Homo sapiens: one gene and its partners. The protein of the gene in region 1 purifies or fractionates together with the protein of each later gene. This does not show direct contact. Each region holds a gene or a part of one and is shown on either strand. Other genes may lie near its edges. The genes, in order: DUSP21, ACP3 and MYO1B.

Region 1 (3,026 bases):
TAAGCCAAGGCTCATGAGAGGAACCCCTGAGGCCTGGTGTCAGGCCTGTTCTCTCTCAGTATATGCCCTGGGAAAAGGACTATGTCCCTTTTCACAAAGGCCGGTGGGAGATCACCAAAGACACCTTGAGAACTTGCCATCAAGTACAGCAGTCAAAAAAATACAATATTTTTAAACTTTATGGAGTGGAATGGTCTTTTAAAAAACTAGTTTTTTTTTTTTTAACTAATGTATAAATCCGATCTAGAAAACCAGAGATGGGCCACTGTGATTGAAGGTGGGCAAGGGTAGCCTGAGACTCCTCCAGAGCTCCTGGAGCACAGCTTGAATGAAAGCCACTTATCCACTAGGTTGGCACTTACTGGGAGAAGTGCAAGGGATGCCAAGATGTCTAAGGCTTTGACTTTGGGTTGGAAAGAACCGGGTGAGATTCTAGGGGATTCACTCCTGGGTTAGTCAGCCTCTGGCAGGGCTCAGGATTCCAGGTCTGCCACATGTATTGGGTGCTGCTGGCAGGTCTATGTGAGCTGAGCATTACTTGCCCCACCCTGGTTCCAGCCAGGCCCCAATAGCTTGACCTCACAATATAAAAAATATTTTCACTATCTTATGTTTCATGAATTTAATTCTATTAAGGTAAGGCTTACTACGTTCAAAACTCCAACCCCCTCCCTTTTTTCTTGCCCTTTAACAAGGCACCATCCGGTTTTCTTTACTAACAAAATGTCAGTGTTCAAGTTCAGTCTTGGTGCAAGATCGATGGCAGATGTCAGGGGCTGGCCGGGATGGCTTACATTGATATCATCATACGTAGGTCCTTCTCATAGATGTCAGGGATGTTACCTACCGGCGAGTTGATCATGCGCACGGTGTTGTTATTAAACAGCTTGAATTCGTAATTGATGAGCTGTTCCCAAAAGCCGTTGTTGGGCCGGATGATGGGGCGGCGCGACTTGGTCCATGTATGGGCGTCCAGCAGCGACATGGAGTGGTATTTCATGAGGTACGCAAGGCACAGTGAGGCGGAACGGCTCACTCCAGCCATGCAGTGCAGCAGCGTACGGCCCTGCCTCATATCGATGGTGTGGATAAGATCAGCAATGGGGTCAAAAAAGTCGTAGAGACGCGAGTCACGAGCATCGGTAACAGGCACCTTTATGTACTGAATGCCCTCGAAGAATACGTTGACCACTTCCACCGAGGCATTGACAATGGCGGTGATGCGATTGCTGGACAGAAGGAGTTTGTCGTTGGCGGCCACACCATTGCTGAGAAACAAGCTTCTGGTTATTTGGGAGAAGCTGTAGATGGAGGGCTGCTGGACACCCTGAGATGATGAAAAGGAGGACGCGGATGCTGTCATCAAGGCGGCTGGTCCGAGGTCTCTCTACGCTGGTTCGGGACACAACACTTACCAAGCTAGTTCAGGATAGCAGCCGCGCCGCCAAGTCTCAGGCTAGGTGTTGGAGAAAGAGGACCAGCTATCGGCCACCACCCTCTTTCTGTCTCCTCTCACCACTCCCATCTGGGCGTCACAATCCCGGACAGATAGCCCTGCGGCTCCGGTTTCCATGGCAATGGCCGCTTGCCGCAAGGAGGACAGGGCCTCTAAGCAGGGTCTTCAGAGACACCCCAGTCTCTTTTCTTTTTATCTTTCTTCATAGTCATTTATTTTCCAAGGCCTAATTCTTATCTTTCTTGACTTTTAAAAATGTTCTGTTACAAGATATCTATTTTATGTTTCAATTATTGGACCACGTTAAACAAGATCTATGAATACTTCTATTTCATCAGTGTTGCAGAACAGGGCTTACACTTTCCCTGCAAAATAGCAATATCACATTCTAAGTTGGGGAACAGCATTTGGCTCATGTGATATGCTAATCTCTATAAAACTGGAGCGAGATATGGGATTTGGCTGGGCTTGGTGGACTGGCCTGATACTTCTTTGTTGATTGTAACCATAAAATTATTTTCCTGCTTACAAACACATCAGGGCTGGTTGTAAGAGAGCATTGCTAACTGATATATAGCCCTTTATCTTGAAGTTGGCCTGTGGTGGACAGTTGTGACTAATTTAGCTGTGTCATAGTCCATTTGTACATACAGCTCAAATGACTTACCGCATGAGTCTATTTTATTACCTGAAACAACAGTTCAAATTATTTTGTTTACTTTCTTCAAAAAAAAATGCCTACATGCTTTGTGAACTACAAATCACTTTGACCACTACCGATGCTGTCTTCCCAGTAATATTAAACATTCTGAAACAAGTTAATGCTACATGGTAATTGGGCCAAAAATTGAGACAGTTTTGCTCTGTCACCCAGGCTGGAGAGTCCCAGGCCTCTGCTTCCTGGGTTCAAGTGATTCTTGTGCCTTAGCCTACCGAGTAGCTGGGATTACAGGAACGCACCACCACACCTGGCGAATTCTTGTATTTTTAGTAGAGACAGGATTTCACCATGTTGGCCAGGCTGGTCTCAAACTCCTGACCTCAGGTGATCCACCGGCCTCGGCCTCCCAAAGTGCTGGGATTACATGCACGAGCCACAGCACTCAGCCCAAAAATTAATTTCTAAAATGTAACCTGACATTTGCATTTCCTTCCAGCTAAGATTTTTATAGAATTTGGCTGAAAATTGAAAAGAACTATAGCCTAAAACTAACAAATTGTTTCACAGAGTAGCCAATTGACTCACATACTTTGCTCTCATTCCATCATCATTTTGGTATGTGTTCAAAGGTGTGCTGTGATTACGAACAAAGATGAAATAGATACCAGGCTGCTTATGATGGTCAAGGAAATGATAACCTCAAAACACAACACACGTTTCTTTTCTCAGTTGTCATAATCAAATTATTTTGCATTACTTAAATTGTCAGTCCCCACAAAGCTATCTGGAAGAAAATAGAACACGAATACTAAATAAATATGAAAACTGTTTGTTGGGGGCAGCTCAGCTGGGCTAACGGAGAAGCTTTGTAATCTATGTAGTAATGTGGAGGCCCTAAACTAGTATTGG
Region 2 (3,658 bases), on another chromosome or scaffold:
CAAGTGCCTTTTAGTCAGGCTGCAGTTTTGGTCATGAATATATCAGTTCTTGGTTCTGGTATGATTACACCCTTATCCCAGGAGTGATTAGGGGTGACTATCATGATTATCCTCAGGCTCTGGCATATCAATATTCTGTTTTATAGGGGAAACTGAGGCTTGGAGAGGCTCAGAAACTTGATTAGATTATACAACTTGCAAGCAGAGAAGGAGGGCTTTAAATCTAGCATGTCCTGTGTCAAAACCTTTATTTGTAATCATTAGAACATGCTATCGTGGAAAGCTAGCTTCAAAGTTATCTGTTGTATCCTTTATTAAATCTTCGTAAACTAGACAAAAATATCATTGACCTGAAGACATAAACTTTGCTTCCTTCATTTCTAGTCTACAGCAGAGGTTGGCAAACTTTTCTGTAAAAGTCCAGAGAGTAAATGTCTTAGGCTTTGTGGGTTAAAAAATCTGTTGCAACTACTCAGCTCTGCGGTGGTAGCATGAAAGCAGCAATAGACAATGCATAAATGAATGAGTGTGGCTGTATTTCAATAAAACTTTATTTACAAAACCAGGTAGTGGGCTGGATTAGGCATACAGGCAGTAGTTTGCCAACCTCTGGCCTAGAGCAAGAAGAGCTCTCTTTTCACTGATATGACCAGCCATATGATCCTAAATTTGCCCCAGGGATTTTTTTGGTGTGTGTGTGTGTGTGTGTGTGTGTGTATGTGTGTGTGTCTTACTGAACAGTGTCACCCCTGAAGTTAAATGATGAAATAAAAATTCTAGACTGGGCACAGTAGTTCATGCCTATAATCCCAGAACTTTGGGAGGCCAAGGTGGAGGATCGCTTGAGCCCAGGAGTTCAAGACTAGCCTGGGCAACATAAGGAGACCCTGTCTTTGCAAAAAATTTAAAAAAAATTTAGCTGGGCATGGTGGTGCATGACTGTAGTCCCAGCTACTTGGGAGTCTGAGGTGGGAGGATCGCTTGAGCCTGGGAGGTCAAGGCTACAGTGAGCCGTGATCATGCTGCTGCACTCCAGCCTGGAGGACAGAATGAGACCCTGTCTCAAAAACAGACACAAAAACAAACAAAAAATACAAAGAAACAAAAACAAAACAAACTAACAAAAAAACTAGCAAAGGTCAGAAGATGGCCCTGATGTGTCCACATTACTCTTTGTCACCTAGACAATGTGTGTTTTCTGTGCAGGAATGTGTGCAGCTGTTTCATCATTCAATAAACATGTAGTTGACAAATCTCTCTTGCCCAGCCAGATCTGAATAATAGTCTGAGCTTTTGTTTTGGCAGAACCACACAGGAGAAATTTTCCTGCTTAACAATGGCGCTGGACTTTTTCCAGAAAGCAGGACAGCTGGTTTCATACAAGTGCCAGCCTTTAGAATCCAAGATCAGAGAACAACTCAGAGAAGGACTCTTATAGACAGTCTAGTTTAATCTCCTCATAGGTAGTGAAACAGAGATCCAGAGAGGGGAAGTGGCTTCTCCCAAATGTAATCTTCTAGTAGGCAAGGGAAATAAAAGAGGAAACATGAGGAAAGTGGAGCAACTCCATTTCTTATTCATACATACACATCCCTACATCTACTATTAGACTACTGTCAACTCCTGTCTGGTATAAAGCATGTTGGGATTTTATTCAAATGCAGATCCTGATTCAACTCGTTTGGGAGTGGGGCCTGTGTTTCTAGCCAGGTGGTAGTTGATGCCGATGCTGAAAAGTAGACTGCACTTTGAGTTGTGAGGGACTAGGTGCCTGAATCCACCATAACTAGGTTGGGGGAAATAAATCAAGAGTCCCGCTTCCACCATTTGATGGGGCTTGCAACTGAGTCACACTGCTGGCACCTGGTGGGCCAGAAATGAGGCTGAGTGCTTATGTGGCTTCCAAGGCACCCTCTACATCTTTTGTTGTTAAGCACTTAAGATTGAGCTTCTTCCTGGGTTCTGCCCATAGACACAGTCTGTATCCCGCCTGGTAATTTTTTCCAACACTCCAGCTTCCATCTAAGACTCCTCTCTGGAGACTCTCCCTTCCTCAAGGCTGGATCTTGTTGCTCATGTGTTTAATGTGAAGTAAGGACTTGCACATTTCTATCAAGTCTGTCTCTGTGCCATGCAATCAGGATTTTTGTAATAGCAGATCTACAACAACCTCATGTCGTTAATGGCCACTGTCCTAAATTTTTTGCCCCAACCTACTTTATTCATCTCACATGAATTTGCTCCTGACCATCCTGGTTTCATACCTCATTCCCCTGGTTACAGCTTGCCTCACTCTTTATACCTGGTGTGCAGCCCTGCTTTTCTAGCTATAATTGATTCCTTTTCTGGTCAGTGATTTGAATTTTTTCCCTAGTTAAGTAGCCTCAGTGAACAACCTCCCAGTCTGGTCCAGCCCTAATATGCTTTGCCTCTATGCATTCTCTTGGGATTTTGATGGACTTGTCCTGATGCTGTGGTGAATAGTGTCTGTCAATGGCTGGAATCATGATGTGATTGTATTAATCTCAAAATGCCTTGAATATGTGTGTCAGCCTGACTTGGACCATCTCCTGTGGCTTGGACTTTCCTCATTACGTCAACCTGACATGATGAACTTTCTCTTCTTCTTTATCCCTAGTTTTAATACCTATGATAACCACATCTAAGTCTGACACCTCATTTGGTATCTTGGCCTGCCCATCCAGTTTCTCTCATAAGCCCCAACATCTGTCCTTGTCTTTGCTGGTCCTGACTTTTTTCTTCCATCCACTTATCCTGATTACAAGAATCCAGCATCCTCTTGCCTGGGTCTGCCTTCATATGACAGGGTGTCCTGTGCTACGAAGAGCCAGTTCTAACCAAGAAGAGGCATCACTGATAAATAAATCTCAACAGCTTTCAATGTCAATGAAAAATTTCAAGCTGTGTTATAAACTTGTCAATTGCAACATATTTTAACAGCACATAATTGGTCTGAAAAATATAACAATTAGCCTGAAAAATATATTTTATCGGCTTTCACAATGACTACCACTCAGGGTTTCAGGAAAACAGGCCACTTTTGTCATACCTCCCACTTGAAAAATTCATCATATAGGCCACAAGACACAATTGATTTTCATGTGGCTCAGACACAGATCCTTGATTTTTGATCTGGAGGGGATGGAAAGGATCATTTAGCTTTAGCTTTCATTTTCCAGATAGAAAACTAAGGGCTTGAGTGAGTAATAGTTATGATTATACTAACATATGACATTTATTGACAGTGTATTATGTACCAGGTACTGTTTGCTCTAAGCCATTTGAATACATACATTCATTTTAATACTCACTGTCTATGAAGTAGGTATCATTAATATCCCCATTTTGCAGAATGGAAGCTGGTGCAAGAGTGATTAAGTGAACTGTCTGAGATCACACAGTTGATTAGTGGAGGGAATGACTCAGACCTGGATCATTCAACCACAAATCCAATATGCTCCTCTCATTTTTTAATACTTACCCCCTTGGAGCCTAGATTTCTCTTTCTGCTTGTGAATTCCATAGAGGGACAGGAGGGACAATTCTGACAATTCTCTCAACTTAGTCATGGTGTCCTCAGTGGCCCAGGAGGGTAAAGTGAAATTGTGAACACTCTGTAGCAAAGAAAAAGGAAGAA
Region 3 (3,658 bases), on another chromosome or scaffold:
CCTTTTTTTCCTCCATAAACACTTGTTAGCCAAAATCTTATCAACTATTTCATCATTTTATTTGTACATACTGGTCTCTTCCACTAGGATGTCAGGTACATGAGGTTGGAGACTTGGTCAGTGTCATTCACTGCCCATTTATCATGTGGAACAACTACTAGACACATACCTGGTACTTAATAAGTAGTTGTATTAATGAATGAGATCGAGAGCTGAACTAAAACAAAAAAGCTGAAAGAGAAAAAGGGTTTTCAAACAATACATGAACGTACTCATCGGAAATCTCAATATTGAGCTTCTGTTTGGTTTGGCTGAGAGTTGTGCGATAGAGCTTGGTGGCCATTTCAATCAGGTGATCACTGCTGAAGAGAAAGTCTCCTTTACTAGCTGCTTCTGAGCCCTGCAAGGACAAACCAAGAGTCGGTCATAATTAAAGATACCTTAGAAGGTCAATATTTACAGGCTTGGCTAAAAACATACTTACAGTCTCTTTAAAACATCAGATCCTGGAATCCATTCTCCCAAGGTAAACAATAATGACAAAAGCAGTGTTTCTTCCAACTTGCTCAGAGCACTTTAGTAAGGTTACCTAATCCCCTTCTACCTAAAGTCGGTGGATGCAGCAGAAGCACCATGTGCATCACTTGGAGCTTGCTAGAAAAGCAGAATCTCAGGCCCTACCACAGCCCCAGTGAATATGAAACCACAACGCAACCTCCAGGTATGGGTTTACACATTCAGGTTTGAGGAGCATGGACCTATCCCGCAACTCTTCTGAAGGACTTGATTAAAAAACTTTTCAGTGATTTGGTTAAAACCCTAATGACAACACTTCCAACAAATATCCTAGGGCAGTGGCTCTCAGCCTTAGCTGTGCAAGGGAATCATCTGGGTTTATTCAAAAAAAAAACAAAACAAAACAAAAAAAAAAACATGATGCTTGTGCCCCCTCTGAGAAATTCTAATTTGATTTCATAGGGGTATGGCCTGGGCATCAGAATTTTTAAAGTTCCCAAGCTGTTTACATGTGTCACTGAGGTTGAGAATCACTGTCCTAGTATTTGATATGCCCCCTTTAAGTTAAGATCCAAAGTAGGGTAAACAGGCTAAGGGAAGCTTTGGGGATTTTTCTAAGTTTAGGGTTGGCCAGAGAGTAACATTATTAGCTAGACACATGTCCCTACATATGATCAATATTTGTTAACTTTTGTTTATTCAGTGACTATGTGTTATGTGACAGGCCCTGTTCCTCCAGTGTCTCATTTAATCCTTAATCCTTACAACAATGCTATGAAGTAGGCACTCTTACTATCCCCATTTTAAAGATGAGAAAAAGTAGGTAGGCACACACAAATTAAATGCCTTGGCCAAAATTATCATAAAGTGAGTGAGACCAACTCCAGAACCTACATGTAACCACTGCATCCAAGCCAGGAGTCCTGGTTAAGCTAAAGGCACAGAACACTAAAAATTATTTAGGTTAAAATTAACTGGCGGTTATTTTATTTTAGTTGTATCCTTTAATGTAAACCCCCAGATTAGAGATGAACATTAAGACATTTACTAAGTTGATACATAGAAGAAAAAACAGGAGAAAACAAAATTTAAAACATCTTGATATTTCTATGTATTAGTCTCAAAAAGTAAAGTAAACTGGCCAATAAAAGTGATTAACTTTATTCAATTACTGAAAAACTGAGTCGGAGATTTTACATAGGGGTGAATATCCAAAATTTGCAAATTAGCAAGGCAGATATATAAACTGCGATAGGATTATCAGATATGGAAATTTTTTAAATCAATGGCTGAGAGATTAAGCACAGAAATCTTCTGTTGAACCTTTACCTCTTTGAGGTGGACGGCGAAGAAGCCATCATTTTGTGAGCTCATTGATACCTTGGTCACATCCACCAATGGAACCTCTGACTTGATTTGTCCAGACTTTTGGTCAGCAAGAAGGAGATTATTGTTTGTTAAGAGGAAAATCCGAGATGTACTCTAAATCAAAATAAAAAATAGTATAAAACCAATGATCACAAATACTCAAAAATGGTCCATGAGTTTAAGGCATTATTTGCAAAAATTCCAATATCCTTCAACAAACATACCTATGTAAACCAAGAACGCAGTAAAGAACATAAATAATATGTTTTATTTCATAAAAATGTCAGAGAACAAGCAAAATTCCACCTAAGCTTAAAGGTAAGGGGAAATAGCCGCCTTCATAGTTAACTCTACTGAGAACATGAAATGCAAATTTTTACATTCAGAAAACAGGGTGACTATCCCAACTAATAGGTACTTCTTATCAGTCTTCAAGGTTAGCATTTTTACCTTCCCATTAGCACGGTTAATTTTGTTCACGACTTCAGCAATGATGATCTTTTCTTCAATGGCATCTTTGAGTTTCTTATACTTGGGGTTCTTGTTGATTTCCAGGTAAGCCCCTTGGAATGGTTGCCCAACACTAAAGGAAAAAAATTCCTGCACATTAGAAATAGTTTCAAATGAAAGTACCACTAAAAAAAGGAAACAGGTCAGTTGATTCTAAGGAGTAGCTGACAACTTCATAAAAATTGATTTCAATTTATTTTATATATTACACTTACATCTGTCCTAAATATAAGTTGGAAATGAAACCTTAAACCTATTTCAAATACACTTTTGGGGTGATCATGGCATTTGGTGGGCAGGACTTTGATAATAATCTTATCACACGGAACAATCAAGACAGAAATCACTCATAAGAACAACAGCTAAGACTCAAGTACATGGCCTCATGTGAAGGAAAAGGCAATTTCTTCTAATCTGTTAATATAAAGTTAACAGCTGCTCACAAAGGATTTACTAACGCCTTCAAACAATATGTGGCAGTGAAAAGAGCTGAAATCATTACCATCACCTGCTCTAAAGAAAAATTTCATTTCTTGCAGAGAATAAGAAAATCAATAGGCCTTCTGGGAAAGAACAGATCCAGGGCAATCACTTTAGAAGAAAACTATAGAACACTTAATATTAACATGTAACTGTGGTTCTAAGTAGGCAATACAGATGGTCTCTGACTTGGTTTGACTTAGGGTTTTTCAGCTTTACAGTGGTGCTCATAAACCATTCTGTTTTTCACTTTCAGTACAGTGGTCAATAAACCACATGAGATATCCAACACTTTATTATAAAACAGGCTTTGTGTTAGATGATTTTGCCCAACTGTAGGCTAATGTAAGTGTGCTGAGCATGTTTAAGGTAGGCTAGGCTAAGTGATTGTGTTCAGTAGGTTAGGTGTATTAAATGCATTTTCAACTTATGATATTTTCAACTTCATATGACATATGACAACTTCATAAAAATTGACTTCAATTTATTTTATACATTACGCTTGCATCTGTCCTAAATATAAGTTGGAAATGAAACCTTAAACCTATTTCAAATATATTTTTGAGGTGATCATGGCATTTGGTGGGCAGGACTTTGATAATAATCTCATCACATGGAACAATCAAGATAGAAATCACTCATAACCCATATGATGGATTATCTGTGTGTAACTGCATCATAAGTTAAGCAGCATCTGTATATGAAAGGAGAATCAAGCCTCTTCTCCTAGAATATGCCTCTAAATGGACAGAAGTAACCAAAGCAAACATTCAGAATCAGGGCA

What was found.
Region 2: the proteins of DUSP21 (region 1) and ACP3 purify together in Homo sapiens (affinity purification with mass spectrometry; 2 studies listed by BioGRID and IntAct, with this or other methods). This does not show direct contact.
Region 3: the proteins of DUSP21 (region 1) and MYO1B purify together in Homo sapiens (affinity purification with mass spectrometry; one large-scale study listed by BioGRID and IntAct). This does not show direct contact.

What each region holds. Positions count from the first base shown.
Region 1 is NC_000023.11:44,842,470-44,845,495, reverse strand, and holds DUSP21 (dual specificity protein phosphatase 21), read right to left. Parts: upstream 1,476-3,026; 5' UTR 1,364-1,475; coding exon 791-1,363; 3' UTR 608-790; downstream 1-607. UniProt on the Homo sapiens protein: Protein phosphatase component of the sperm flagellar doublet microtubules. May act as a regulator of sperm motility by mediating dephosphorylation of sperm doublet microtubule proteins.
Region 2 is NC_000003.12:132,344,904-132,348,561, reverse strand, and holds part of ACP3 (prostatic acid phosphatase isoform PAP precursor), read right to left. Parts: intron 3,636-3,658; coding exon 3,503-3,635; intron 1-3,502. UniProt on the Homo sapiens protein: A non-specific tyrosine phosphatase that dephosphorylates a diverse number of substrates under acidic conditions (pH 4-6) including alkyl, aryl, and acyl orthophosphate monoesters and phosphorylated proteins.
Region 3 is NC_000002.12:191,412,857-191,416,514, reverse strand, and holds part of MYO1B (unconventional myosin-Ib), read right to left. Parts: intron 2,468-3,658; coding exon 2,335-2,467; intron 1,999-2,334; coding exon 1,846-1,998; intron 401-1,845; coding exon 273-400; intron 1-272. UniProt on the Homo sapiens protein: Motor protein that may participate in process critical to neuronal development and function such as cell migration, neurite outgrowth and vesicular transport.